Linked DNA regions of Homo sapiens: region 2 is linked to region 1. The links come from fine-mapping of genetic effects on gene expression. A gene starts in region 1. The other region holds a variant in brackets. All regions are shown on one strand. Distances are between the middles of the regions.

What was found. PIP is the estimated chance that this variant, and not a neighbour inherited with it, causes the effect. A credible set is the group of variants that fine-mapping cannot tell apart.
Region 2: its variant is the best candidate, but not a certain one, in a credible set for the expression of DCDC1 in hepatocyte-like cells (PhLiPS, PIP 0.55).

The regions. Positions count from the first base shown.
Region 1 is chr11:31,362,089-31,377,747 of GRCh38, reverse strand. DCDC1 (doublecortin domain containing 1) reads left to right here and starts at 8,009. Exons shown (of 39, transcript NM_001387274.1): 1 at 8,009-8,051. It overlaps DNAJC24 (DnaJ heat shock protein family (Hsp40) member C24), which reads right to left and starts at 7,888. Exons shown (of 5, transcript NM_181706.5): 1 at 7,836-7,888; 2 at 6,889-7,032. The coding sequence starts at 6,999. RefSeq lists an enhancer at 7,596-8,075.
Region 2 is chr11:30,986,458-31,002,116 of GRCh38, reverse strand. All of the region lies in intron 20 of DCDC1 (doublecortin domain containing 1), which reads left to right. Among named protein-coding and RNA genes, the nearest start is that of LINC02859, 260 kb to the right of the region's middle. The variant G/A (reference allele first, on the strand shown) is at 8,167.

The DNA of each region.
Region 1 (15,659 bases):
CAGTTCTCAATTTGACAAAGCTTTTGAGATGAAGCTTTCTCTTAAGTAAATAGCAATTTTCACATGCATAACTGCAAAAAATACAGGAATAACATAACTAATCATTCTGGACCCTAGACCATTTCAAAGCAATGGATTACTATTCAAATTGTTTTTAATAGAAAACTAAAAAAAATTTTAAAAATCAATTCACAATTGATTTACTAATAAGTAAAGTCCCTATTAATAAAACAGTGCTGAAAAATGTTGGTTCAATTACTTTTATTTTTTATATAGTAAACTATTACACGGCAGGCCAATATGTATGTCTATAATATGTAATATGTATGGTATGTGAATGTCTTTAAAACTAATTCTGCACTTTACGTAAATATGTATCTTTAAAGTATTCTAAAATATCTCAATTAGTAAGAATTTTTTCAGAATCAGGACCCTGAGTAAGCATTACATTTACAAAAACTGAAATAAGGAAACAGTATTTACTAAATCAATATGTATTGTAAACTCAGCAGCCTACAATTTAGCAATATTTTATCTAAACACCTAATTGTGCAGGAGGTGTTAAATTCAAAGTCTTCTGAACTTAGAAAATTACATGTAATACGTGTGCCTTTTTACAAAATTAGATACAAAATGCTGTTAGTCAAATGTAATTTTATTCTCCAACTGTTTTGTGACATTGTTGAAAAACACAGACTAACAAAATGTGATAGTTCTAATTGGGAAACAAGAATACGAACTTTAAAAGCCTGTTTTTGTTTTTAAAAATCTGATAAACATTATAAATAATATGCTTTTCCCTTATAATTTTCTCCTTAAATCTATTAGAAAGTCTAAACTTATGCAAAAAGAGTAAGAAAACTAAATTTCACTTCATAAGCCATAAAAAATCTAGATCCTTTCAAAATTACAAGACAGTAGTAATTATGTCTGACCTTCCATAATACTTAATTAACTGTGCATAAATGAGGTGTTCTATGGAAATCCAGAAAAAAATAAAAATTATGCCTTTAAACAACAGTAAACCCTTTTAGATGGCAATTATGAGAAGTGTGATATAATGCGAGAGAATCTAGAGTCAGAGGATACATGATCAAGCCTAGATCATAACCCTTACTAATTCTGTGTTTCTGACAAACCACTTAACTGTAAGTAAGCCTTCATTTTCTCAAGTACAAACATAGGGGTAACAAAGCCTATCTTACAGAAGATAAAACCAGATGTGAAAGCATTTGTAAACTGCTAAGTACAATACACGTGCTACTAATTATACACTTACTACTCTATACTTCCTAGCCTTCTTAAACAAAATTAACTGAACATAACTCATGGCCATAATTATGATTATAAATTATTGCGCTGAACTGTAATATAAGGACCACTGATACATCAACCAAGAAAAAAGAAGGGCAAAATGCTATGAGATGGTGTATTAATCCATTTTCACACTGCAGATAAAGATATACCCGGGACTGAGCAATTTATAAAGAAAAACAGGTTTAATGGTTCAAAGTTCCACACGGCTGGGGAGGCCTCGCAATCATGGCAGAAGGCGAAAAGCATGTCTTACATGGCAGCAGGCAAGAGAGAATAAGAGCCAAGCGAAAGGGGAAACCCCTTATAAAATCATCAAATCTTGTGAGACTTATTCACTACCATGAGGAGAACAATATGGGGGAACCCCCTCCTCGCCACCCCATGATTCAATTATCTCCCACTGGGTCCCTCCCACAACACATGGGAACTATGAGAGCTACAATTCAAGATGAGATTTAGGTGGGGACACAGCCAAATTATATCAGATGTATTGTCTCTTGTTGCCTGCTGCCAGGTTGTTAGCTGAGACTTCTTGCTCCCATAGTATACATAGCTATCTACAAGGAGCCTTCCCAGAATAATGCTAGTTGAAATTCTCTCTCCTGTAATTTGCTGCTTCACTTCATCTCTCACCCTTCTCAACAGATAACTTTGTCTTCTACTTCACAGAGAATAAAAAGAAGGTACCAAATGAGAGCTCATCAACTTTCCGCTACCAAACCTACAAATAAACCGGCTATTGCAACTATCTTTTCTTCCTTCCTTCCTTCCTGTAACAATGAAGACAGGTCCCTCCTATCTCTTACCTAAAGCTAATCCTTCTACCTATGATTCAGATCCTATTCCTCTCTGCTTTTGTTAATTATTCAAACTCTCCTATAACTTCAATCTCAAGCTTTTCCGTGGCCACTTCCCATACAGTGTAAACATGTTCAAGTCTCTCTCATCTTCTAAAAGAAAAGCAGAAGAAAAAATTTCAACCTTTTATTACAGTCCACCTACCCTCATTCTCCTTATCTAACAGCTATACCTCCCCTGTCTTAGAGAAATATCATGAAATGTACTAAAGACATGGCAGGGAGCTGGGGAGGCACGATTACAACTAAGATCATTTTGAAACAGTGAGTGAGAATCAGGTGAGGTAGTGGATGGGCAGAGTGCAAGTGCAAAGGCATATGGCCACAGAAGGGTATCTGGCCTCTAAAGGGAAAAGAAAATAGTTCAGGGCTTCCACTAAATGGCAAATTAATTAGAGAGAGGGTCTTGCTCTGTCGCCCAGGCTGGCGTGCAGTGACACAATCATATCTCACTGTAGCCTTGAACTCCTGGGCTCAAGCAATCCTCCTGCTTCAGCCTCACAAGTAGCTAAGATTACAAGTGTGAACCACAGCAACTGGCTCACACTTTCATCCCTCTGAAAATTCCTTGATAGTAACAGAAAAGGAATAATAATTTTTTAAAAAAAGGCATAAATGTGTAAGAACAAACAGGAGAGAAGAGAAAAAAACAGGCAAAAGAACAGGAGAGAAAAGACAGGCAAAAGACACCAAAATTTGAAGAGATGGAAAATTCATCAATAAATGATAACAAATTCAGTGTACCTGCAAAAACTGAAACCTAAGTCTAAAGTGAAAGAGACAAAGAAGTGAGTTCATTCACACAGAGGCAGGAGAAATTGAGGAACGGAAGGCATTAAGTACCTTTGAGAGTGGAGTTGAGGGGCAAAACTAAACAAGAGAAAGACTGGTTAAGACTAAAAAAATGGTTAGCCCTCCACCTCTCTTCCTCACTATAAAGCCAGAAATCACAATTCATTTTATGGGGCTAGCATAACTATGATACTAAATTTAGACATAAACATTACGAGAAAAGAAAATTACAGACAAATATACAGCATGAAATTAAACATAAAAATCCATGACAAAATAATAGCAACTAGAATCCCTCAATGTATAAATATAATAATGCTTCATGATAAGTGGTTTGTTTATCCTAGGGATGAGAAGTGGGTTTAACTTAAGAAAAATCTACGTGATTCACCACATTAACAAATTAAATGAGAAAAATCAATAAATGCAAAAATTCAATAAATGCAAAAAAAAAAAGGATCTAACAAATTTAAATACCTACTTACCATAAAAACTCTTAGCAAAGTATTAATTGGAAGAATTTCCCCAAGCTGATAAAGGGCATCTTTAAAAACATACACCTAACAGCATACTTACTGGTAAAACATTGAAGGTTTTCCTCTTAAAATCAGGAACAAGGCAAGGATACCTGCTCTTAACACTTCAACTGAACATTTTAATAGAAGCAACCAGCTAGTGCCTTAACGTAAGAAAAGGAAATACAAGACATACAGATTGGTAAGACAGAATTAAAACTCTCGTTATCTGCAAATGACATAATTGTGTTGGCAGAAAATTCTAAGAAATTGACAAAAATAGCTATGAAAATTAAAAAGCAAATTTACCTAGATTGTAGGATAAGAGACCAGTATATAAAAATAAGCTATAATTTTATATACTATCAATCAACAAGTGAAAAATGAATTATTTTTTAAAATACCATTTATAATGGAACCAAAAACCAAATACCTAGAAATAAATTCAAGAAAAGATATGTGAGACCTCTACACTGAAAATTATAAAACACTGACGAGAGAAATGAAAGATGGCTTAAGTAAGGAGAAGGATACATGTTCATAGATTCAAAGACTCAATATTATTAAGATGCCATTCTACCAAAGTGGATACCTATTATTGCAATCCCAGTTGAAAACTCAAGCAAGATTTTTTTGGTAGACATTTACAAGCTGATTCTAAAATTTCTGTGGAAATATAAGCAAACTAGAATAACCGAAATAAACTGGAAAAGAAGGATAATATTAGAGAACTAACTTTACAATGACTTTGAGACTGATTATAAATCTACAGTAATCAAGATGGAGGTATTAGTAAAAGGATAAACAACATATAAAACAGAATAGAGTCCAGTAATAGACTCATATTGCCAAGACAGTCCAATGGAGAAAAAAATTTTCAACAAATGATGCTGGCACAACTGAATATACTGAGGAAAAATAAAAACATGACCTCACATCTCATGCTATACACAGAAATCATAAGTCTAAAGGTAAAAGCAAATGACCACTTCTAGAAGAAAACATCGAAGAATATTCTCATAACCTTAGAGAAGATGGAAAGTATTAACTATAAAAACACACATTTGATAAATTATATTTTGTCAAAACAAAAAACTCTGCATCAAAAGACACCATTAAGAAAATGACCTGGTAAATCACAGACTAGGAGAAAATATATACAACATATATACAGAATCAAGAATATATTTAATTTAAAAAAAAACACTTCATAAAAGAAAATTATACAAATGGCCAATTATCACATTAAAAAGGGCTCAACATCATTAGTCATCAGATAAATTTTAAAAAAGCAACAACCCCACAATGGGGTATGACCAGACACTGTAGAGTAGTCCAGTGATTCTCATGGGATGTGGCAATTTTGACATGCAGGCGGCATTTTTGGTTGTTACTGGCATCTAGGATCCTGCCACACATCTTACAAAGCACAGGACAGCCGAAATAACAAAGAATTATCCTGCCCAAAATGTCAATGGTGGCAAAATTGCAAAAACTCCAATAGCCAAAATGAAAGAGACCAATAACATCAAATATTGGCAAAGCTGTAGAGCAACCAGAATTCTCTGATACATTGTTAGCGCATATGTGAAATGATTTACCTACTTTGCTGTTTGACAGATACTACATATTATGTGCAGACTGCTTCTCAGTGGCCAATTAAAGGCCAGCATGGCCTACAAGAACCAGAATGATCCAGTCTACTTTTCCAGGTTCATTTCCCAATTAACTGAGTGAGGTACAAGGATGGTTTAATATTAGGATATTTTTCAATAAAGTCTACTTGATTCTGCTGACAGAAACTTTAAAACTTCTGGGGCAAAAGGTACCTTAAGGTCATTTAGTCCAACATACTACCTAAAGTAAGAATATTAGTACAATCCTGATGATGAAACAGTTAGTCTCTCACAATGAACATTAATAGTTTTGGCAAAACAACACTGATGTAACTGGTATAAACTAAAGAGACAACAAATTCTATATAAATAATGGTTCTTTACTCTTTATAAACTGAGTTAACCGGACGTCGGTATAGAATTACAGACATTGGCTTAAGAAGCATCACAATACAGATTGAAAAAATGAATATAAAAATTCAGAGATATATTTACAAATACTACAATTCATTTAAAAAAAAAAGAGTCGGCCGGGTGCAGTGGCTCATGCCTGTAATACCAGGACTTTGGGAGGCTGAGGCGGGAGGATCACTTGAGGTCAGGTGTTCGAGACCAGCCTGACCAATATGATGAAACCCTGTCTCTACTAAAAATATAAAAATTAGCCAGGCGTGGTGGCATGCGCCTTAATCCCAGCTACTTGGGAGGCTGAGACAGGAGAATCCTTTGAAAGTGGGAGGCGGAGGTTGCAGTGTGCCAAGATCGCACCATTGCACCCTAGCCTGGGCAACAAGAGTAAAACTCCATCTCAAAAAAAAAAAAAAAAAAAAAAAAAAGTCAACTGATAATTAGTGTATAAATGGTCTAAATCAGCATTACCCAATAGAAATATAATGTAAGTATAAATGCCGGCTACATATGCAATGTTAAAAAAGTAAAATGCAAGAGAAACAAACTTTGATATGTGCAAATACATGCATGCATATTATGTATATAAAACACAAAATAGCCAGTAATCCAAAATATCATCATTTCAATATATAATCCACATAAAAACTGTTTGATTATTAACTACAAAGAATTATCAGACAGGGAGTTTAACTGTGATAAGTTTATTAAAGGATATAGTAGAAACAGTGGACAGTATGTATAAAAAGATGAGAAAGAGATAGAAACTTTAAAAAAGGAGCCAGTAGAAATGCTAGATATGAAAATTAGGTAAGAGATCAAGAATTCTTTTAAGAAGTTTATCAGCAGATGGACACAGTAGAGGAAAAATAAAACCAGTGAACTTTAATCAACATAATCAACATAAAAATTGTTAAATTATTTTAATTCCTTTTAAATACTGTCTTTAAAATCCAGTGTATATTTTACCCTTACAGTCCATCTCAAGTCAGGCTAGCCACACTTCAAGTAATCAACAGCCACATGTGGCTAGTAGCTACTGTTGTTTATTATGTAACAACACTTCTAAATATTTTACATGGATTATTTCATTTAATCCTCCCTTGGCACATATAAGAAAAAGTAACTTGTCCAAATTCTCACAGATAAAGATGGACTCAAGATTCTAACTCAAGCAGCCTGACTCAGATCTCCTGCTCCTAACCATGCTTTTCCACCTCAAATCAAGTTTTTCTGCAATATTACTGAAATGTTCAATTAAATCAAATTAATACCTGGATTCCTGCCACTGGTATCCTATTTTCTGGAAACCTAAATTTGTGGTTTCATATAAAAATTGATTTTTTTCCCCTCATGATTTAAAATCTGAAAGAAAAGACTTACCATTAATATGAGTTTTTGATATTTTTGTTTTAGGTCTGATATATTTGCAGATGGGTCTGCTCCCAGGATGCTGTACCAATCCTTTTTTGGCATCTGCTCAACCGCCATCATCCATGGAACCAGAAGTGGGCCTTCTCAGATTAGCTGAATAGAAATATTAATGACAATTCATCACAGTTTGCCATGTATCTAAGAAAAAATTAAGTACTGCCCTTGTAAATTCTTTAGTATTTAGTCGAGTAAATCATGATTATAATGCAAACCTGAGGAAGCACAGATTTTCATTTAAAATGCCCCAAGAATTCCAGGTATAAGTGTACCGACAAGTATGGAAAACGTGTTAGGTATTTCACGATATATATTTATACTTTAATTAATGAACAGCATTAAAAAAAAGAATTTTATAATGAACCAGGTGGTGTATGAACCTCTAAGAAGGTATTTCTGCTAGTCTTATGATAAAACTGGCACACAAGTAAGCACCCACTAAACACGCTGGAGGAGCTTAATGAATATTTACAAAATGAACGAATAAAAAAAAAGCAAAACAGAACATCAAAGAATTAAAATAAATTTGGGGGCATTCCTTCTGAAAGTTTCTCGTTTGCTTTTCCTCCAGATTGTCTGGAGAGCATGATATGGGAAATAACGTCAGCACCAGCTGGTAGAGAACAAGAGTCCCCTGTTATTGGAGAGGCGCTGAGACCTCGCAAAGACAGAGTGAAACTCTCTACGCGAGGATGCCCCAGTCTTCCACGCTCCAGAAGAGAGACCCTACCAGGAGCCCCAGAAATCAGGCAACCTCTTCCCACAGCTATATACACTTAACGAAACAGCCGGGGCCTCCTCAAGCTCGGGACTTGGGAATCTTCTCCATTCACAGTCGGCTTTACCCACCCAGCCATTGGCGGGCACCCTCTCCGCGCTTTATACGACATCAGACCTACCTAACTTCACATAGGCGCTGCTACCCACTCCTCGCCTGCTGTCGGCCAGAACTCCGGACCGGCTTCTTCTTCCGCCGGAAGTCACTGTTCCGACGTGTTCGCGTTTCTGGCCGAGCTGATGTGGCCGTGGCACAGCTCAGAAGCGACGCTCCGCCCACCCCGACGCGGTCTCTATGGTAACCGGTCACCGCTTCTATGGAGTGGCGTTTACTACCAGTAAGTTCCCAAACTGTGAAGAAAGGCGCCTTTGGCTTCGCTCTAAGTCTCTCTTTTCCGGGCCCCGCGACTGTCGCTTCTCTCCTCCTCCTCAGCGAGCACCCCCTCGCCATCCCAGGCTTTCCCCGCCTTTTTCAAAGCTTCCTCCGTTTACCGTACCCTGAGCTACTCTCAATCTTTTCGGTTGGTGCTTGAACTCTGGGGTGAGAGAGGGGTGCGGGGGCAAGGATGTGAGAAGGATGAGGAGACCTGATGCCACTCTCGTCCCTACAGTTCCTTTACAATGTTCTAATTCGAAAATTAAAAGAACTAAAACCTATGCCAGGTAGGGCTAGATGTGCGGGGGATGGGGTCGGTTTAATTTTTTCTGCAGAAGATATTCGACGTAATTATTAATATTTCTTTTAGACCTTAGCAACCAACTTACAACATAAAAACGTTCCAAAATTCTTTCACATTTGCTATTTCACTTCGCTTTCATTTCAACCCAGTGAGACAAGTAAGGCAGGTGCCATTATTCCCACTTTATAGATGAGGAAAGAAATCAAGGATCAAGGCCAAACAGCTAGTTGGGTAGGGGCAGAACAAGGACTCAGCAAGTCTACACATTCCCAGGGCAGCTATGCTATCTTTCAAGCTTACAGAAAAAAGCAGAATGAACTGTTCTTCTTCGAAGCAGTTAGGGGGCACTGCATATGGGCACTGTTGGGGTTTGTTATTGTTGCTGGTGGTGGTGGTGGTGGTGGTGGTGGTGTTTTTCTCACCTTTCTTTCTTCTCCCTTTCTTGATTCCTGTGTTTCCTTTTATTACTTCTTTGTGCTGCTTACTTTACATTAACACCTCTTCCTAGCATTGTACCTGGAGATGAAAACTACATCTTATTTTTGGCCAGCATGACATAAATTTCACTTGGAGATGTTAAAATGGTTTTGTTGTTACTGCTTTGATTTTGCTTTCCTTCTTTTTTAAACTTCTACCAATCTGAGTTTGAGAAGCAGTCAAGATAAACTTAAGCAGAATAAATAAAATAATCTAATATGATCAGTTATTTAATGATGTTATGAACTATAAAGAATAACTGAATGAAACAAGCAAGTTTAAAAATCTAAAGATGAAAGCATAGATTAGGTTCTCCACAGGGTTTTGTCATGTTTAAAGGCAGATACAAAGAGCATCTGGTTTTAGTCCTGGCTGCATCATACTTTCTTGTGTGGCCTCATGAAAATACCTAAAGCAATGGAATTAAGTAGTGTGGTGAATGCTTTTCTAAACAGTACTGTCAGAATGATGCCACCTTGAACATCTCTAGCCCTCAAACTCCCTTCTGTCCACAGCTTGGTTCTTCCTTGTGTAGGTAGATATGCTCCGGTACTCCAGGTTTTTTGTTTTTTACAGCAAAAGCATTTTATTTTGATTTACTATTTATTAGGTTATTGTGTTACCTTATTTATTTATTGGGGTTTGGAAAGTAAGAAATAGTTTTTTTCCCCAGCAATACCAAATATTTTGTCATTTCATCTCTACATACTTTAGTTTGCATCCCTAAAATGTACCAACTTTTTCTTTTATCTCCATAATGTCATTATTGGACTGTCACATAATATCTAGACCTTACTTACATTTCCACGGTTAATTGAAAATGTCTTTTTCTGGTTGGTTTGCTTGACTCAGAATCAGACAAAATGTACACTTTCCATTTAGCTGTTCTGTCTCTTAAATATCTTTTAAATTATAGCAGTCCCATTTCTTCACTAGAACCTTGTTTTTTTCTTTACTTGCCATTGGCTTACTGAATGAGAACAGTTGTCTTACACTCTGCTTATACCAAAATAAACTTCTTAAAACAATTTTTACATAAATTTCTGATCATTAAGCTTCCTTCATTTTTCATTTTATAGAGCAGTACTTTCCAATAGAAATATAATGTAAGCCGTAAGTGCAAGCTACAAAATTAATTAATCTAAAAATTATTAAGGCGATACTTTACATTCTTTTCTCCTACTAAGTCTTCAAAAGCTGGTATGTATTGTGCCCGAACACACCTCAATTTGAACTAGCACATTTCAAATGCTCAGTAGCCACATGTGACTAGTGGCTACTGTATCCAGCAGGGCAGGTCTAGAGAATAAAGTCCTAACTCCTTAACCTAGCATTCAAGTTACCTCTTCAATATGATCCTTACTTTTCCAACCTCCCCTATTATCTCCATACATTAAACATTTAAACAATTGGATCTTTTCATGGTACTGAAATCAACCCAACAGTCCCATAGACAGGGTTTTGTTTGTTTGTTTAGTTTTGTTTATTGGGGTTTTTTAAATTAATAAACATAGAAATGGACACTTCTTTTCTGAAAGCTTGAAACTTGCATTTGTTTTATCTTTTTGTTTGCTTGTTTGAGACAGAGTCTTGCCCTGGTGTCCAGTCTGGAGTGCAGTGGCATGATCTCAGCTCACTGCAGCCTCTACCTCCCAGGCTCAAGTCATCTGCCCACCTCAGATTCCCAAGTAGTTGGGACCACAGGTGCATGCCACTATGCCTGGCTAATGTTTGTATTTTTTTTTGTAGAGATGGAGTTTCACCATGTTGGCCAGGCTGGTCTGGAACTCTTGAGCTCAAGCAATCTGCCTGCCTCAGCCTCCCAAAGTGCTGAGATTACAGGCATGCGCCACTGCGCCCAGCCACATTTTGTTGATCTTTATCTCAGTTCCTTCCTCAAGAAAGGATGCCCAGACCTCTCAACAAGTATCAAAGAGCTGAAACTCACCAGATTACTGCATCTAGACAGTGATATGCCAGACCCCTCATTCTTCGTTATTGTTTCCTTACCCTTCCTTAGTTCCTGTTTTCTCATACGTAGTTAACATTTCTTCCCTGTTATATAAACCCCTAATTTTAGTCAGTGAGGAAGGTGAATTTGACACTGATGTCCCATCTCCTTGGCTGCAGCATCTGATTAAAGCCTTCTTCTTTGACAATAATCATTGTCTCAGTGATTGACTTTTTGGGTGGTAAGCAGCAAGACATAGATGGAACTCCTGGTGTTTTGGTAACAGCATTTCATCAATAATTGTGTTCAAATGCTTCTCCTTACTTATAACACCCTAATTCTTTTCTTCCTCCTATCAGAGTAATCCCTGCTTTAAGGCCTATCTCTTCCATCAAGCCTTTTATGATGGCCTGGTCCTTAGAACTTACTGCCGCCCCTCAACTTTCATAGCAAGTCCTTTGTATATCACAGTATATTGTTTTCCTTAGAATATATTCTGATTCCCCAGTTGGGTTGCAAGCTTTCTGAGAGCAAGAACACCTCTCCAGAGAAACTAAGAACCAGCTATCTTGCCTCATTCTCTGGAGTTCTAATGATACATAGCTCTAATAGTTTTGTTTCTCAGTATCTTATATTTAAAAGGCAATTTATCCATTTTATGTGAAACTTACATAGTGGAAATATAAACTATGTTAGTATCATGGTTAAAAGCATGAACTCTAGAGTCAGAACATATGTGTTTAGTCCAGGCTTTTCCTCTTACGGCTATGTGAACTTAATTCATCTCTTTGCTTTGGTTTCTTCCTCTGTAATATGGGAGTAATAATAGTATTTCCCTCATAGATTTGTTGTGGGAATTAAATGAGATAGTTGTGCCTGAAAGTAATAAGTATTCAGTAAAGGTTAGCTATTGTTGTTATTATTAATTAATAATATTTGTTGCACATTTGATATATTAGAATGTTGGACATTCATAACAGTATTTTAGGAATTTCCAAAGAGAGCAAATGACAGCAAGAAACAATTGAATTGGAAAAATAAAATCAAACCCAAATATTTGTTGAACTGTACATTTGGTTGGACTTCAGAATAAATTAAAAGGATAGGCAAAACTTTAGTTTGCGTCATCAGCATCTAACATAACCAAGGTAGGCGTATATTAAATATTTGATTCCCAGATGATTGATCAAGTGCTATAGATGTAGCTAGATACATCAGGAGTTTAAGATCCTTTGTCATGATGATAGGAAAAAATGACATTGTTATTAAATCTATCACTTTGGTACACGCCTGCCCGTAAACTAACGTCTACCAGACATTCACAAATTCTTAATTTGATGTCATACTAGTCAATTGTGCTTCTCATTGATGGATAATAATGGAAATCTATATCTATATTATATAGATGTATACATATAGTGTACTTCTGCTAATTATTTCCTATTCAGGATTATATTTACTTGGCTCTTTTGGTAGTTCCATCACCAACTATTCCTTCATTTCCTTGATTTTTATTTCTGAATTTTAGGATTTTTATACCAGTGAACTAAGCTGTATTTAAGTACCATGGGATATGATGGTTATGTTCCAAAATTGAATGATTGTCTCTAGAGCAACTTATAATCTACTGGGAAGATAGAAAAACCACCAAAAACTAGCTAGTTATTTGATTTTTAAAAGTCAATGATATATATACAGCCTTCATTCACCTATTGACTCAATCGACAAATATTTGTTGAGTGTCTCTTATGTACCCCACACTCCGTTAGTTACAAGAGACACAAAACAAAGTTGACTGTAGTCCTGTCAAAAGCTTAGTTTATCTGGGTAAACAGACATTTAAAAAGGAACTGAAATAACTGTAGGAAGTACTATGCCAGAGGAAATACCAGGTGCTGTGACATTAATTAATAACTTGCAGGTATACTAATACGTAGAATAGATTACTTGAATGATTAAAATCCTTGAATCAAGATGAAGCTAATCCAGGAAGATGTATGAAATGTTAAGTTTTAAATAGTGTTTTGAAGGAAGGGAGAGGTGAATGACTAGGATGAAAGAAACTTCCTTTCTTCTTTTTTTTTTTTTTGACAGATTAACATAAAGCTTTAGATAGTATTGAGAATCAGCTCTAATGAATAATCCTAGCTCATCTTTTAGAAATGGTTTTCATTTTTCCCTTTGTTGGTTGTCTTAACTCAGTCTATTATCTGCTTTGCCATTTTGACAATAGTCATCATCGATGAACTTTCGTTGAGTTTGTGCAAGGCAGTACACTAAGCAGGAGAGAAAGAGGAAGAGGTAAATATTTTTTGCGGGCACCGCACTTGTTGCTGTGTTTTTCTTGTTTTTTAGCATTATGTGTCAGTTCTTTCTAACTTTTTTCAGACCTCTTATAGGTCTTTATCTTATCTGAGATTTATGTTCCTGTTTTCCTATCTTCACATCTAATGTTTTAATCATTCCATGAGCCTATTAAAAATATTGTCTGTAATCCATCTTCTATTTATCTTTAATAGTCATACAAATACCAACTTGTTTTTTCCCCCATTCACTTGTTTGCCCTTTTCTCTTTTTTCTTATCACCACTCTGGTTTTTCTATGCACTTTCCAACTACACTGAAATTTGTGGTGATCTCTTCCAGTCATGTGGGGATATGCATTTATATACAGAAGCTCCTTGACATGTGATGGGATTATCTCTGATAAGCCCATTTTAAGTTGAAAATATTATTAGTGCCTTAATACATCTAGCCTACTGCACATCATAGCTTAACATAGCCTACTTTAATTGTGCTCAGAACACTTTCTTTAGCCTACAGTTGGGCAAAATCATGTAGCACACACTACACCATAGAGTATTGGTTGTTTACCCTCAGAGAGTGCATGGTTCACTGGCAGCTGCTGCTCCCTGCCACTGCCCAGCATCATGAGAAATTATTTTACTAACTATCACTAGCCTGGGAAGAGATCAAAATTCAAAGTATGGCTTCTTCTGAATATGTATTCAGTAGAATACACACCATGTAAAGTCAAAAAATTGTTAATCAAACCATCCTAAGTCAGGTACTGGCTGTACTGTTTTTTAAAGCATGCTACTTTCTCTATTTTAGTTTTTTAATCCTGAATTTTTTTCGAAAAGTTTATTTTTGTCATGTAATTGACTTACAGAAGAAAGGTTAATCTGAATGATCAAGGGGTGTTAATTTGTGGGTTAAAATGTGTTAAACAGTTGATTTGAAGTCTGTTTAAGTCAATTAGAGAGTATAATGAAGATGTTTCCAGGGTGTTATGGAACCTTTTGAAGTTAAGTGTGGAATTCACTAGTGTATATTAACTATGGCACCTGGCTAAACATGTTATTGCATTCAGGTTTTTTAATTTGTGTGAATTCTAATAGGTATGAATGGGTCAACATACATAGAAGTTTGACTTTATTAATGAGCCTCATCTTTTGTAATAGGAAATTAAATTCATGACTTAATTCATCATTAGCAATGGAAAACATAATTAGTATCATTGTTATCTTTGTTACTTGCATATTTTTCTAAAATATAAGGCAATAACTCTTGTTTTAAAATAAGATTAGTGTCATTATTATAGGTTTTTAAATGCTAAGTATCTCATATGGAAGAGTAGAATTCATAAAGACATATAAAATGTTGTGTGCTCACTTAAAGAAATGATTTATTTCCTCCCCTAAAATTACATGAAGTAAAATTATGAGACATGTTAGTGTTGGTTAATATTTTCAAATATTTCAAAATAGTTAATATATAATTACACACAGTTTAATATTACTATGCTCAAATTCAGTCATTGAATATAATTTTTGTATGATGGTAGCATTATTTAAGATGATTAAGCATTACAACTTCAACAGTTTAAATCCACAAGAGATATGAAAGTAAAAATCAGATTTTAAAATACATTCTTCATTTAGCATCAGGGTTACTATAGTCTGTTTTTTATTACTTATGTCAGTTTACTAGTAATAAACACATTTAGCATTTCAGCTTCTTGCAACCTTTCAGTTTAATTAGTTAGAGACTGAGAAAAACAGGTCTTGTATGCTAAAGGGATTTCTGCAATGATGGATTAAATGCCAAAATAATGAAACCACACATCTTAAAAAATATACTGAAGAATAGATGTTTTCTGATGAATTTCCACAAAATATCATATTTTTAAAATACTTTCAGCAATTCATAGTATTACTTTTTAATCTACTGTAGAAGCACCATGACTCTAGTCTTTTGTAGCTCATTAGCAATTTCTTTAATGAGTTTTTTGGTGTGATAGATAGTTAAAGTAACAGACAAATGACAGATTGTTTGCCTTTAATGATTTCCCTGTTTCAAGCCCATTACAAAGCAATTAGAAATCTGACAGCATTTTCACTCTGCATTACTGATCGTCTGAAGTGATGAGGAATGAGAGGTGGTGAATATTAATTGTATATTTTCATATGATTATCATAAATTACTACCTTGTCTGATGTGCTGCAGGTGAAGCGGGAGCATTAGAGAAAGGCAGTCAGATACATTAATTTCAAACACTGTATGTTTTTTTAAAAAATCTTTGTAGTATAAATCCTAGTCTGCAATGTTAGTCTCTATGAATATTCCTCTATCACTATTAAATTAACTGTTTTTAGTTTCTATCTATATTTGGGACAACTGAAGTTTTCTTATTTGAATACAAGAAAAGGAAAGGTTATTCCATAGTACAGTGTACCTGTATCTATTTAAATTTAGAATCTTAAAAATCTGTGAATTTTGTTGATTTATATATTACATATATATACATAATATTCAGAAATTTCAGTATAGAGAAAG
Region 2 (15,659 bases), 380 kb after region 1:
ATTCTAGCATGAGTTTACATTTGGGAAACTAATTTTCCAGCTAATTGTTGTTTAGTAAATTTTGGGAAAGTATTTTCTGTTTTCCCCTGTGAAATAAAGATTAGTCATGACTTTAATTTTCTATTTTGACACGTTCACTGAACATAGCATATTTACATTGCAATATTTAGGACACTGGAAATTCATTAGAATCAAGAGGAGTAGTTGCAGCATCCAAATGGATGAACTGTTGCTGATTCTTTAATATCTCCAAAGGGAAACCAAGCTTATAAATCTTGCTAACCACCTTACACTGAGCTGTCACCTTCAATGTACCTTTGATATACTCACTTTCTTTTAAAGGGGAAGATAGGAAACAGAAAGTGTATCATTTCATTCACACAGACTTTGTCTGGAAGTGCGGCTGTGATATGATTTCTGTCAGAAAAGATCTGCTTGATATTCCTCTGTCTTTGCTTGGGAACACAGAGTGGTTTGTCTGTTTTCTAAGCCAGTGTGTAGTATATGCTGCCTTGTCAAACAGCATTTGTCTTCACTCACTACCTGCTTGTTGAGTGGAGCTCAGCCTCGCTGCGGTGGCAGAGAAAGCCTTAAGGCTGCTCAGCATCTGTCTCTTCATGTAATTAACTGCAGCCCTGGATAGGGAGCAAAACAGAGATTTTTGTCCTGTGAAAGAGTAATGTGTCTAGACAGGAGTTTCTAAGCAGGCAAAAGATTTCTTAGTGTTTCTGTTCAAATGGAAGGACATATTATTTTTTTTTTGTCTCAAAATGTTTTGAAGGTAAAGTGACCATTTGCTTTCATGGCAAAATAACTTTGGAAAATCCACTTAATATGGTTTATAAGCCTTTCAAAATGCCTTTACTTGACAATTTTAGCATTGAAAAAATAATGATAATAATGAATTATAGTTCATTGAACAAAATAAGAATCCATGAGTCAATACTGACACAAATAAATGACTGAATAAATAAAAGATGAACAAGAGGAGCTCTTTCTTATGGTGGAATTCCAACTAATGCCAACTAATAGATGTTGAATGAATTAGTTAGAAAAATCATAATTTCACAGCTGTTATGGTAATAATTGACTCAAGCAAGAACCATCAATGGATGTTAATACTAACTGATGAAAATTTGCTAAGGATCAGCATATATACAGTCTCAAGTTATCTCTTTACAAATTTGTATATACATGTATATATAATTATATGTGATTGAATCTGGGTGAAGGGTATATGGGACTTTTTTTTCTTTTTCTAACTTTTCTGAAAGTTTGAAATTATATCAAAAATAAATAAGTAGCAAAAAAGTAAAATTTACATACTCTTGGTTTTCTTCCTAAGTAATTGGAACATGGCTCAGTCCTGGACATGCTTTTTTTTTTAAACATAGTATTAGAAAAAAAACAATGCATTATGCTACCCAGAAGCTTGACTCACCAGCTGCCAACAAAGCTTCATTAATGTAGCATGTTCTGCAATCAAAACCCTCTCTCTTGGGAAGAGTGACATCCTGAATATTTGCCTTTCACAGAGACTCACTTAGAGACTTGCAATCCATAAGGATTTCTAAGTGGAATGTGAGTATCTGCATGTGTAGCTCCCTGACACATTTTATAGTACCCTTTAACTTTACAGAAAAGGGCTCTGAAATTTAGAAAATGAAGGCTTGCAATTCTTTCTATGTCATTCTTAATAAGCTTGCTTTCAAGAAGTAGAAGGCAAAGAATCCTCCTCCTCTAAGACCGTATTGTGGAGTCATAGCAGCCCTGATAATTGCTTAAATGAGAAGAGGAGACTAAATATTATAATAAAGATTGCAAACAGTGTTGAAGACAATTATACTGAATTCTTTCCTGGATATTTTTGGTATTCATTTGATATAGGGCATTGTGACGCTTGAATGAATGGATTTATAATTTAACCTAAAAGTTAGAATTAAGCAATTCAATGTTTGTCTGAAGGAAGATTCATTACTCTTAACCAGATGATTTTTTAGATGCCCTAATATGCTTCTTCCTGCAGTAATCCCTTGGTGTTTCCCTTGCAACTGACAATGGACCCGACTGCTCCTCCACAGCCAGCACAGATGGTTCCTCTTACCTGAAGCCACTGGCTTTGACCGACCTTTTCTTTCTGGTTGGTGACTAAAGGAGATAGTTGACTTCATTCTTAAAGGGGAGAACGAGTCAAGTCACAAGTCTCAGTTCTCTTTGCAATTTGATCTCCCTTACCAATGCTGTGAGATGGTCTCCAGTGTGCTCCTAAGATTGCCAACAAATATTTTATTTTATTTGACGTTTGTATTTTTGGTATATATTTTACATTAAAAATATTTTGAGGTTTATATTTTCTTAAAAATATAAGCTCTCCCCTTTCTCACTCCCCCCACCCTTTTTAAGATGGAAGTGATGTGTAAGAGTCGCATTGTCCAAACTCCTTATTTTGATGATTAGAAAACTGAATCCAAAGAATCCCTAAGTTCCTGGGGATCATGCTTTTTGGTGAAGCTGGAATTTGGACCAAAGGTTTCAGATTTCCAGGCTGGCATTACGTTCACATGTTGCCACTTTTATAATAGTCAAGAATCTTAAATTTATTGAAAATTCTTGGAAAACAAAAGCATAATAATTTTTAAGTAGAATACATAAGGAAATTAGATTCGACATAAGGCTTTTACTATTTTTTCATTTTGAAATAATTTTTGATTTACAGAAGAATTGTAAAGGTAGTATAGAGAGTTCCTACAGCTCTTTCACTCAATTTCCTCTAAAGCTAACATCTTACATAACCAACATCTTACATAACCATGATACATTTATCAGAACTAATAAATCAGAGTTGGTACAATAGTATTAACCAAACTAAAGACTTATAAGGTTTCATCAGTTTTTCCACTGATGTTACCTTTTCTTTTCCCAGGTTTAATCCAGGATACCACACTGCCTTCAGTAGTTGTGTCTCGTTAGTCTCCTCTAATCTATGACAGTTTCCCAAAATGTCCTCATTTTTCATAGCCTTGACCCTTCTGAATAGTGGCCAGATATTTTTTAGAATGTTCCTGAATTGGGATTTGGAAAGAATTTATAAAATTAGACTGAAATTATTGATTTTGGAGGAAAATACCACAGAAGTAATATTCTCTTTTTATTGCATTATATCAGGGGGTGCATGATATCAATATTACATATTCCTGGTGATGTTAACCTTGATCACTTGGTTAAGATGGTGTCTGCCAGATTTCTCCACTGTCAAGTAACTGTTTTTTCCTTCTGTACTCTATTTGCTAGAAGCAAATAGTTCAGCCCACACTCAGGGAGGGAGGAATTAAGCTCTTACCTCCTAGAGGGAGGACCATTAAAAAATTTGTGGACATAGTTTGGACATCACAATAATTAATAAATATTTGAGGGGAGATACCATAAGTTTGAGCAAATATCCAATTTCTCCCAAAAGTTCTGCCCACTAATTTAGCATTCATTAATGCGTTTTGTCTGTAGCATTTATAGCTATGATGTTCTAATGGTGATTTGTTATTTCTGTCATTTTTAAAACATTTACTAATTGGAATTCTTTTGCAAGGAAAATATATCCATTCTTTCATTCTTCCTCATTTACTTATTTATTAAACTTATTGTTTATATGGACTGATGGATATTTACTTTATTCTTTGGGTGACAATTTAATACTATCATTATTTATTTTTGCTCAGATTGTTTCAGCATTAGCCATTGGAAACTTCTTCATGTTGGTTCCTGCTGTGTCTTTTCAACAGGCACCATACTTCCTCCCCCCTCCCCACTTTTTAATTTTTATTTTATTTTGAGTCCAGGTTTCATTCTATTGCCCAGGCTGGAGTGCAGTGGCACAATCATGGCTCACTGCAGCTTTGAATTCCTGGGCTCAAGTGATTCTCCCATCTCAGCCCCCTGAGTAGCTAGGACTACAGTTGCATGCAACACTGGACTAATTTTTTTATTTTTTGTAGAGGTGGGGGTCTCACTATGTTGCCCAGACTGGTCTCGACCTCCTGGGGTCAAGCAATCCTCCTGCCTCGACCTTCCAAAGTGCTGGCATTACAGACATGAGCCACTGTGCCTGCCCCCACCCCCTTTCTTTTTAAACTCTCTCTTACTTTGTGACACTACAACACAATCAAAGTTCATCTTGTGGTTCCTTGCTGCAATATAGAATCAGCTATTTTGTTCAGAAGTCTTAATCTCCTTATTGGAGATGGGGAGAAGGCTATTTAGAAACCAAGGTCTGGATGCTAGTGTGTGTACACACACACACACACACACACATACACACTATGGTATGGTAAAATAAACATGAGTTTATTCTGATATGTTTGATTGTAATCCAGCACCATGGGTTCATTCTAACATTCCTGTCTTGGTTATTGGTAAGGTCATTTGTAACTTTTTTCTCTGATAGCGAGAAGCCAGGCTCCTATCATCTGTATCCCTTTTTTGTTCAATTTTAGTATAAATATAAAAAAGAGTGTCAGAATAACCAAACTGTACTACTAGGAGAAACAAATTTAACAGCTGGCATACAATACTTATATACAATTCTTTTTGTCTTTGTCTTTTTATCTAGGTATGGCCTTTCAATATCTAGACAAAATACTTGTTTTCCAGTTACTAGATTAGCGCTTTTCTTCCTTACCCCTTCAGTGAGGTTATGTTGTATATTTATTGTACACTTAGATTGATTTGTCAAAAGCTGTATTTCATTTTGATTCCCCCAAATCCTGATTTTGTTTTGTTTTGTTTTACTTTGCAGACAGTAAAAGCCACTCTTCAGCATACAGTTCTATGAGTTTTGACAAATGCATAGTCATGTATTTACCACTCCAGTATCATAAAGAACAGTTTGATTACCCTGAAATATTTCCTTGCATGTTGCCTTTGTAATCAATCTCTATCCTCTACCCCTGTCTCTGGCAACTACTTATCACTTTCTGTCCCTACAGCTTTTCCTTTTACATAATGTCATTCAAAATGGAATCATAAAATACATAGCCTTTTAGGCCTGGCTTTTTTTCTCAAATAGCTAATGCATTTAAGATTCATGTATATTGCTGTGTGCAACAGCTCATTCCTTTATATTGTTAAATAGCATTCCACTATATGGATATATCAAAATTTATGTGTTCAACTGTTGAAAGGCATCTTAGTTGTTTTCAATATTTGGTGATGATGAACGCTGCTATACATGTTCATGTACGTTTTTATGCGAACAAAATTTTCTGTTCATGTGAGAAAATACCTAGCAGTGTGATTGCTGGACCATGTGTGTCTTAGTTCATTTTGTGAAGCTCTAACAAAATACCTGAGACTGAGTAATTCTTAAAGAACAGAAATTTATTTTCTCACAGCTTCAGAGGCAGGGAAGTCCAAGATCAAGGCACCAGCATGTTTGGTTGTCAAGTGAAGGCTGCTCTTTTCTTCCAAGACTGTGCCTTGGTGCTGCATCCCACATAGGGAAGGAATGTTGTGTCCCCGCAAGGCAGAATACAGAAAGGGCAAAAGGGATGAACTCCCTTTGTCACGCCCTTTTATAAGAGCATCTAATTCCATTCATGAGTGCAGAGCATTCATAACTGCATCACCTACCAAAGGTCACACTTCCCAATACTCTTGCACTGGGGATTAAGTCTCAATATGATTTTTGAAGGGCCAAAAACATCCAAACCATAGCATATTGTGTGTGTTTGACTTTATAAATATGTACCAAGCTGTTTCTGATGTGGCTGTACCATTTTATATTCTCATCAAAAATGAATGAAAGCTCCTGTTGCTCTGCATCCTCTATAGCCCTTGGTATCAGCAGGGTTTGGGGTTTGTTTTTGTTTCATTTTGCTTTCTCTTTGCCATTCTAATAGATGTGTGGTGATCGTTCATTATGGTTTTAATTTTCAATTTACTAATGACTAATGATGTTATACCTCTTTTCCTGTGCTTTGTGCCATCTGTCTATCTTCTTTCGGTGATGGGTCTGTTCAGATCATTTGCCCTTTTTAAAATTGGGTTGTTTCTTATTGCTGAATTTTAGAGTTCATTATACATAGTGGAGACAAGTCATTTATCAGATACATGATTTACAAATATTTTTTCCTAGTCTGTGTCTTCTCTTTCATTTTCTTAAGTGCTTACACAGAGCAAACGTTTTTAATTTTGATAACGTCTAATTTAAATTTTGTTTCTTTATGGATGATCGTGCTGATTGTGCCTTTGGGGATGTATCTAAAATCTCATGGCCAAACTCCTATTATTTTCTAGATGTTTTAAGAGTTTTATATTTTGCCATTAAGTCTGTGATCCATTTTGGTTTACTTTTTTTGTATAAGGTATGAGGTATTTATCAAGGTTCTTTTTGGTTTTTGTCTTATTTTTTGTTTTGCTTCATAGAGACATCCACTTGGTTCAGCACTATTTGCTGAAAGACAATTCTTTCTCAATTAGTTGCTTTTCTACCTATGTCAAAAGTCAGTTGACTATGTTTCTGTGGGCCTATTTCTGGGCTCTCTCTTTTGCTCCATTGATTTTTATTTCTATCCTTGCACTAATACCACACTACGTTGATCATGTAACTCCATAGCAAGACCTGGAATTGGGTAGTGTGAGTCTTCTACCATTGTTCTTTTTCAGAATTACTTGGCAATTCTAATTGCTTTTGACCCTCCATATAACTTTTAGAACCAGCTTGTCGAAATCTACAAAAGAGTTTGCTGGGATTTTTATTGGAATTACATTGAATCTATAGATCAAATTGGAAATAATTGTCATTAATATCTTAATGATATTAAGTTTTCCAGTTCATGAATATGGTGTATTTATTTATTTAGATCTTTGATTTTTAAATCAGTGTTTGTAGTTTTTACCACGTAGATACTGCACACATTTTAAAAAGACTTATACCTAAGTGCTTTATCTTAATATTTTGTGTAAATGTAAATGTGATGTTTTGAGATTTAGTTTCAAATTTTATTTCTTTCATTGCGGGTATATAGAAATACATTGATCTTGTAGCTCACAACCTTGTTAAACCTTCTTACTAACTCTAGGATTTTTATTGCACTTTTTTTTAAAGATAATCATATTGTCTGTGAATCAGGACTCTTATATTTCTTTCTTCCCAGCCTGTATGCCTTTCATTTCTTCTTTTTATTCCTCCCCTTAGTGTATTGCCAAGGATTTCTGGGACCATGATTAATAGCAGTAGTAAGAAATGAAATCTTTGTCTTACTCTTGATTTTAGGGGGAAACATTCAGTCTCTCACCATTGAGTATGATGTCAGCTGTAGGGTATACATATATATTTATTATAATAAATATTATAATAAACAAATATATTATATATTTATTAAATAAATATATAATATATTATAACATATACTATATGTTATATATTATAACAATAATATGTTATATATTATATATTATATAATAATATGTTATATATTATAATAAATATATAAATAATTTATATATATAGATAAATTACAGGTGTGAGCCACCCCACCTAGACGTTTTTACCCTTACAAAGGGCATATATACATATACATATATATATATATAACTTGAGGTCAGGAGATCAAGACCAGCCTGGGCAACATGGTGAAACTCCATCTCTGCTAAAAATACAAAAGTTAGCCTGGCATGGTCGTGGGTACCTGTAGTTTCAACTACTTGGGAGGCTGAGGCATGAGAAATACTTGAACCTGGGAGGCAGAGGTTGCAGTGAGTGGAGATTGTGCCACTGCACTGGGTTACTGAGTGAGTCTCCGGAAAGAAAAAAATGGGTAAAAAAGTTTCATTCTATTCCTGGTTTGCTGTAAATTTTTATTACGAATGCATTTAGAATTTTGTTGGATAATTTTTCTGCATCTATTGAGATCATTACATGATTTTCCTATTTAGTCTATGGTAAGTATGGTATGTTACATTAATTGATTTTCAAATATTGAACAATCTTGCATTGTTATAATGAATCTCACTTGGTCGTATGATGTTTCATTCCTTTTTTATATTGCTGGATCTAATTTGGTAATATTTTGCTGAAGCTTTTTGTATCTATGTCCATGAGGAATATTGATCTGTAGTTTTCTATTCTTGATAGAGCTTTAGCTGGGTTTAATATTGGGATAATGCTGGCTC[G/A]TAAAATGAGTTGGGAAGTTTTCTCTCCTCTTCTATGTTCTGGTATAAACTATATAGCATTGGTATTATTCTTTATTAACTGTTTGGTAGAACTTGACAATACACTTCTTTGAGCCTGTACTTTTCTGTTCTGGAAAAATTTTGACTACAAATGTAACGTCTTGAATACACCTATTAAAACTACATATTTCTTCTTGGAAAGAGATTTGTAGTTCTTGTCTTTCAAATAGTTGTTATATTTTAATTTGTCATATATATGGGCATAGAGTTGTTGGTAGTATTCACTTATTATACTTTCACTGTGTATGCGATTGATCTAGTGATGTCTTGTTTTTCATTTCTGATATCAGTTATTATTGTCTTGTTTTTCTCTATGTCAGTCTAGCTAGAGGTTTATCAATTTTAGAAATAGTTTTTCATTCATTGATTTTCTCTGTTGTTCATTGGTTTTCAATTTCATTGACCTATGCTCTAACCTTTATTATTTCTTTCTTTTTGCTTGCTTGATGCTTAATTTGCTTCTCTTTCTCTAGTTTCTTAAGGCAGAAGCTTAGATTACAGATTTTACATCTTTATTCTTTAGTAATATAAAATTTAATGCTGTTAATTTCCTTCAAAGTAGTGCTATAACACGGGCAATCTCTGAATTTTGATGTTGTATTTTCACTTTCATTTAGTTAGCTTATAAAAAGCTACATTAACTTAAATTAAAAGTATTTTATTTCAGAATATTTAAAAATTTTGACACTTCCTCTTTGATCCAGGGGTTATTTAGAAGTAAATTACACATAGTATTTTGAAGAAGTAGGATTTAACATAAGTTTTCAACATTTGCTATATGCTAGAAAAGTAATTTTTATATAATTTTTTTTCATGTGGAGTGCCATTTTACTTTTTTAAATTAAGTAAATATTAAAATTTAGGAAAGTTAAGCCTAATTTATGATTGAAAATCAAAATTAACTTGGTTGGTCTCAAATCTCTTATGAAATATGCAAAGTGCATTGAGTTTACCACAAGCTGTACAATATACTTGTTGGATCGACTTCAGTACCCACCTTCTTCATAGAATATAACACACAAAAACAAATTTCCTCTACTTTTATTTTAGATTTTTTAATATCAAGACTAATATTGACAGTCAGGAAGTAGTAACTTTTCCTGAAATACTACACATTGTCTTACAAATAGCTTATACCAGATGTCTAGACTTTGGACTTTGTTTCTTCAGTTTACATAGTGGTTGAAAATTTAACTATTCCTTTAGCTTTGTGTCTCTCAGTACCATCATGGCCTCTCCATGTATCTTTACAGTATACCTTCTGAGACCTGCTGAGGATATGACTCAGCAAATCACCATGGTGATGGGAGAAAGCCAGGTTGTGGGGGCACCAGCTATAACGGGGTAATACTTGGAAGGCAATTTCTTTCTGAGAACTTGCTGCAGCCTAGCTTGGAGTCCTGGCCTGGAAAGCTTGAATATGAAAAGTCAGGTTGGTATCTATCTTTGGCAGGACTGCCTCACTGGGTCTGGGTTTAAATAACTCCTTGGAAGTCAGATCTTTCATTCAGCCGCAGGGAGCTTACCCTGTTAAGTAGCCTGTCTTGGTTTGTCAGTCATTATTTGTTCACTGCAAGGGGTTAACCCTCAGCTACATGGTCACCATTTCAGGATCTTGTTATTTGGAAAGTAGGATTCAGACCTGTAGTTTAACATGTTGATACATTTCTGTTAAGAGAAAAATACAGCATTTCTTTTAAAATGACTTGTTAGCAATTTATAGTTAACATACACTCAAATGAGACCTTATGGGAAGAAGTATGATTTTATTTATGTTTTTCTTAAGGTACCTTAAGACAGTGCATTTTACATTGTACTTTATTTGTGTAACATTTGCTCTTAGAAAGACAGGGAGCGTACCATTTTCATTTTTGGTTTCTCAACAACACAGAAGTGCATGGCACATACTAGGCCTCAAGCACTGCTTGTTGAATGAATATTACATATGTGGGTGAAGTATATGATATTCTTTCTCCTTGTTTTACTTTGATCCTTCATTTTCAGTACATTTAAATTCTTTTCCCAAAAATATTATGAAAGCTGTTTTCTCTTTGTCTTATATGTTCCCAGTGTTTATCTGAAGGAATGCAATTTGCTACCCATGTTACTTAAAAAAATTTACTTGTATGTTTATTGGTAAAATCTTTCATAAATAAACTTATTTTGGTGTTATGCCTACTGAATAATTCCAGAAGTATATATATTTTTTCAAGCTGGAGAAGACAAGAGAAATTAGGGAAGAGACAGCAGAGATCAAATGTGCAGGCTTGTACACCTGGTGTAGTTACGTTTAGAGTAACCACAGAACCTAGTGACGTCGGTGGTGCATGGCATGCCCTAAATAAACATCTAGTTTAAAGTTTCCCAATTTGAGCTGTCCGATCCAGTTGCCACTGAGTTTTCTTTTATGTTACTTAAGAGCCTTACTAATTTTCAGCACCAATACAATTCAGTTTTTAGAATTAGGCAATTAGAATCATGGCATTTTGCTGATTGGGAATACCCAACTAAGCCTGGTGACCTTGCATGGGACCCCTTTGTCTCTGTCTTTTTATTTATTATTATGGTATATGGTTAAGGTGTACACTCTGATGTTTTGATAAATGTATACCTAGTATTACAGTCTATTTCTGGAGTCACACTCACTCCCAGCTATGCTGCCTCTCTCCTCCTTAAGGCAGGCTCTCATAGCCTTCTCTCCTGTCTGCTCTTGAGGTCTTGGGTTCTCATTACAGCTGAACACCTGCTGTTTCAAGCCAGCCTCCTCATGGTTACCAGGGATGTCCCTTAGCCCTCCCTTGGCAAACCCGTTTGTCAGTTGCCTCACTCTCTGGCAGCACCTATTTTTATGCCAGCAATATTACAGCTTTCTCACATCAGCTTTTCCTCGTAACTCTCACTTAAATGTGACTGTATGATACCAGGAAGCTTCCCACCCCAAAATTATTTTGGAATTGCATAATTTCAAGGCTACTGGCCTGGAAAATGTCACAAGAATGGGAAGTTCTCACCCATGTTACTTACTGGAACATAAATGTGCTTCACTGCACTTGCGTGATTAGCGTCAGTGAAACTGTCTATTCATGTCACGTCTTTACTAAATAACTTTAACTACAATTCCACTGTGTAAATAGCCTAGTACAGTTAATCAGAAAAAAACAAACATAGAATTGTATTATAAAACACACGTGCTTTGTTATTAGTGTAAACTAAATGTCTTCAGACCTTACTACCCGAGGTAAAAATAAGGTCACCTAACAAATAGCTGCATTTCCTAATTGCTTCATCTGCACAGCTGCAGCACCTTCACTCTTGTAGATCACCTTTCCTATGTCTCCCTGGTTATTTCTGAGTGTCTCCAGTGTTTCACATCTTGTCTCTTATATTTTTTGGCTGTGGCTTCCTTGCTGAGAGCCCACGACTCATAAAGAAAGTTCTTACCTGTCCTGTGGGTGCCTCCATAACAACATGGGTTTGCTGCTCCTAGGAGCATCTTCCGGTGCATCCCTAACACTACAAATGTCTCAAGATGCAATAAGGTGTCGTGCTTTGTTCAGTCCCCACAGTGATGATTCTGGGTTATGCTCCTGGGAGAGCATATCTTCAAATGAGATCTTACAGGAATAAGAAGAATGTTTTTGTATCTCTCTTAAGGTACCAAATGCATTTTACCTTGCATGCACAAACTCAACTGCATATATATATATATGTTCCACTGTAGTTGACACCCCAACTCTGTGCTGCTTTTGTCACTTAGATTCTGAGGCAGCTCTGATTGTGCCTTTTGTTTTCACAATGTCTCTTGAAAAAGCGTCTTCTTCCCATCTTAGGGTTTCTTTCTTGGCAGGTTTTGGGGCTGACTCGAGTAGAGATACACCATCCTTCACCTTTCCAGTCTAAGTGTTTTGGGCTCACGTATGCACACACACCTGCACACATGACCAGTCACCGCTCACCTCTCCAAATTAAGACACGAGTCTTCCCTGGATTGTCTCTTCCTGTCATTCACAGCAACTTTTGGTAGCCTGAGAGGTTTCTAGTTCAACTTTTTACAAGAACAACCACAAATTGGTTTTATTTTTGGCATCCCACAGCATTCATCTTTTAAAAAATGGCTTCCTAGGTAAAGGTATGAGAAATATCTTGAATGCACAATATTATATATTATTTAAAGAGGATGCTTTCTCCGACTCTATAAATACATTATTGAATGGATTTGAGCAGAAATAATTCACTCTGCCTGGTAGTGCTCCATCTTAGAAAGCACAAATATGCTGGTTTCTAATGTGTAAAGCACAGAAGAGAGAAAAAGCCTAGTTAAATGTACTTTAAATGTCTGTATTTTGATGCAATATGGTTGCATTTCTGTGTGTTAGAGAGTGAGGATAAAGAGGACTACAGATTCTCAGATTTGTTTTTATTTTTCCAAATTCCCAAGGACCATGATAGGGCTCTCAGATTCAACCTGGGAGTCAGTAGAGCAGTCTGTGTTTGTTTGGATTGTCTTGTTCTTCAGGAATATAAATGATCTTGATTTTGGAACATGGTTTCACTCACATTAAATGAAATATTGAAAAATATCTTCTCCCTCTGTACTATGTAAACAGGCTTTACAAAAGTCGTTTCTCTGTTCTGATATTATTTGATCTTACAAAGCATTCCCCTCATTTAACTACTTCCTACTTGTGAAACACTTTCTTCTCTTGATTTCTCTCCATCACTGAACACTCCTTTTCAATCTCTTTTACTGCCCCCCCTCTTATTTTGTCCTAACTCTAAATGTCACGTATGCCAGGGCTGTGTTCTCTGACTTCTATATTACCTCTCCACTTCCTGGATGATCTCATCTACTCCCATGAATTGGAATGCCATAGAAATATCAGTGATTCCCAAATCTGTAGCTCCAGTTTCAACCTCTGCAGATTCATAGATCCATTTTCATGCCAGCCACTTTCATCTGGAGGTGTTACTGGAATTTCTAACCATATGAAGCCATATGAAGCTCATTTGAAGTATTTGGGGCCAGAGGAACAGCTGGTGGAAAGGCTCTAGATCAAGCTTGTCCAACCCATGGCCCATGGGCCACATGTAGCCTACGATGCCTTTGAATGTGACCCAACACAAATTTGTAAACTTTCTTAAAACATTATAAGATTTTTTTGCGTTTTTTTTCTCATCAGTTATCAGCTATCATTAGTGTTAGTGTATTTTATGTGTGGCTCAAGACAATTCTTCTTCCTCCAATGCAGCCCAGGGGAGCCAAAAAATTGGATGCCCCTGCTGTAGATAGAGAAAGGCTTAGTATGTTCTAGAAGCAGAAAGAAAGCTGGGAGGCTGGAGAAGAGTGGGGTGAGGGAAGCAGTTAGATACAGATTAGGAGATTAGGTCACAGAGGTGACCAAATAGAGTGCTTATTTTCCTTTCCCAAACTTACTCCTTACTCCAGTTATCATCATCATCATCCCATTTTTTTTCAAGCTGAATAGCTGGGAATTTTCCCTCTTTTCTTTTTCCTTCACTAGCCCCATCCCAATACCTATTCTATCCCCAAGTTCAATGGATGAATCTGTTCATTTATTTCCATGCCTACATCTTGAGTTTGTCCATTTATTTTGATTTTCACTAAACTGTACTCTCAGGCACCATCATCCATTCTACAGCATTTGGTTCCTAACTGCTCTTTCTGCTTCTACTTTTGCTCTCTACTATTTATTCTCCATCTAGCAGCCAGAGTCATTATTTTTAAATGAAAACCAGATAATTTCACTCTCCTGCTTAGTACTCTTCATTATGTTTAGAATAGAATCTGAACTTCTTATCTTGGCTTGCAAAACACTCCACAGTCTGGCTTCTGCCCACCTCTGTGACCTAATCTCCTGTATCTAACTGCTTCCCTCACCCCACACTGCTCCAGCCTCCCAGCTTTCTTTCTGCTTCTAGAACATACTAAGCCTTTCTCTATCTACAGCAGGGGCATCCAATTTTTTGGCTTCCCTGGGCTGCACTGGAGGAAGAAGAATTGTCTTGAGCCACACATAAAATACACTAACACTAATGATAGCTGATAGCTGATGAGAAAAAAAAATGCAAAAAAACTTATAATGTTTTAAGAAAGTTTACAAATTTGTGTTGGGTCACATTCAAAGGCATCCTAGGCTACATGTGGCCAATGGGCCATGGGTTGGACAAGCTTGATCTAGAGCCTTTCCACCAGCTGTTCCTCTGGCCCCAAATACTTAAAATGAGCTTCATATGGCTCATTTTTTCTTGTCATTCAAATCTCAGCTTAAATATAGCCCTATAAGAGAGGTTTTTCCTGATGACTCCATAAAAATTAGCCATACAGTCCATCTCTATCATGTTGACTTATTTTAACTCTGGATGATGCTATTTTGAGATATTCTTTATTTGTTTATTAATTATAAGCTCCATGATAACAGTAAAAATGTTTGTCTTGTTCATGTCTGTATCCCAAGTGCCCAGAACAGTTTCTGGCATTGTAGATAATTAAGAAATGTTTATCAAATGGCTCAGTTTCATTTGTGGTTTTCTCTCCCTTAAAAACAAAGAAATAGCCTGGGTGCGGTGGCTCACGTCTGTAATCCCAGCACTTTGGGAGGCTGAGGCAGGCAGATCACTTGAGGTCAGGAGTACGAGACCAGCCTGGCCAACATAGGGAAATCCTGCCTCTACTAAAAATACAAAAATTAGCTGGGTGTGATGATGCATGCCTGTAGTCCCAGCTACTTGGGAGGCTGAGGCAGGAGAATCGCCTGAACCCAGGAGGTGGAGGTTGCAGTGAGCCTAGATTATGCTACGGCACTCCAGCCTGGGCAACAGATTGAGATTCCATCTCAAACAAACAAAAACAAATAAACAAGCAAACAAACAAAAACTAATGGCATTCTACTTTTTCGGTTTCTTTTTGTATTTTTCTTAGGGACAGTAGGAGTTATTTTCACTAGGTCACTTCAGAAAGAATACCATTCTCTTTGATGGTATTGTTTAGTGCAATGAGTTCACGTCATGAGCAGAACTGTTTACTCTATTATATTTGGAATTTCCTACATTTGTTACTCTACGTACTTAAATTGTAAGCTTTTTATCTGTTTCTGGAAAAGAAACTACTGATTGTCTACAAATTTTCATTCTTTCTTTCTTTTTAATTATTAAGGGTGGAAACAGGTTAGCCAAAATACTTAACACCCCAGTCTCCAGTACAGATATAATTTGGCTTTAATATAAAAAGTAGAAGTCATTGGCTGGGTGTGGTGGCTCACACCTGTAATCCCAGCACTTTGGGAGGCCGAGGTGGGTGGATCACAAGGTCACGAGATGGAGACCATCCTGACCAACATGGTGAAACCCCGTCTCTACTAAAAATACAAAAATTAGCTGGGCATGGTGGTGTGTGCCTGTAGTCCCAGCTAATT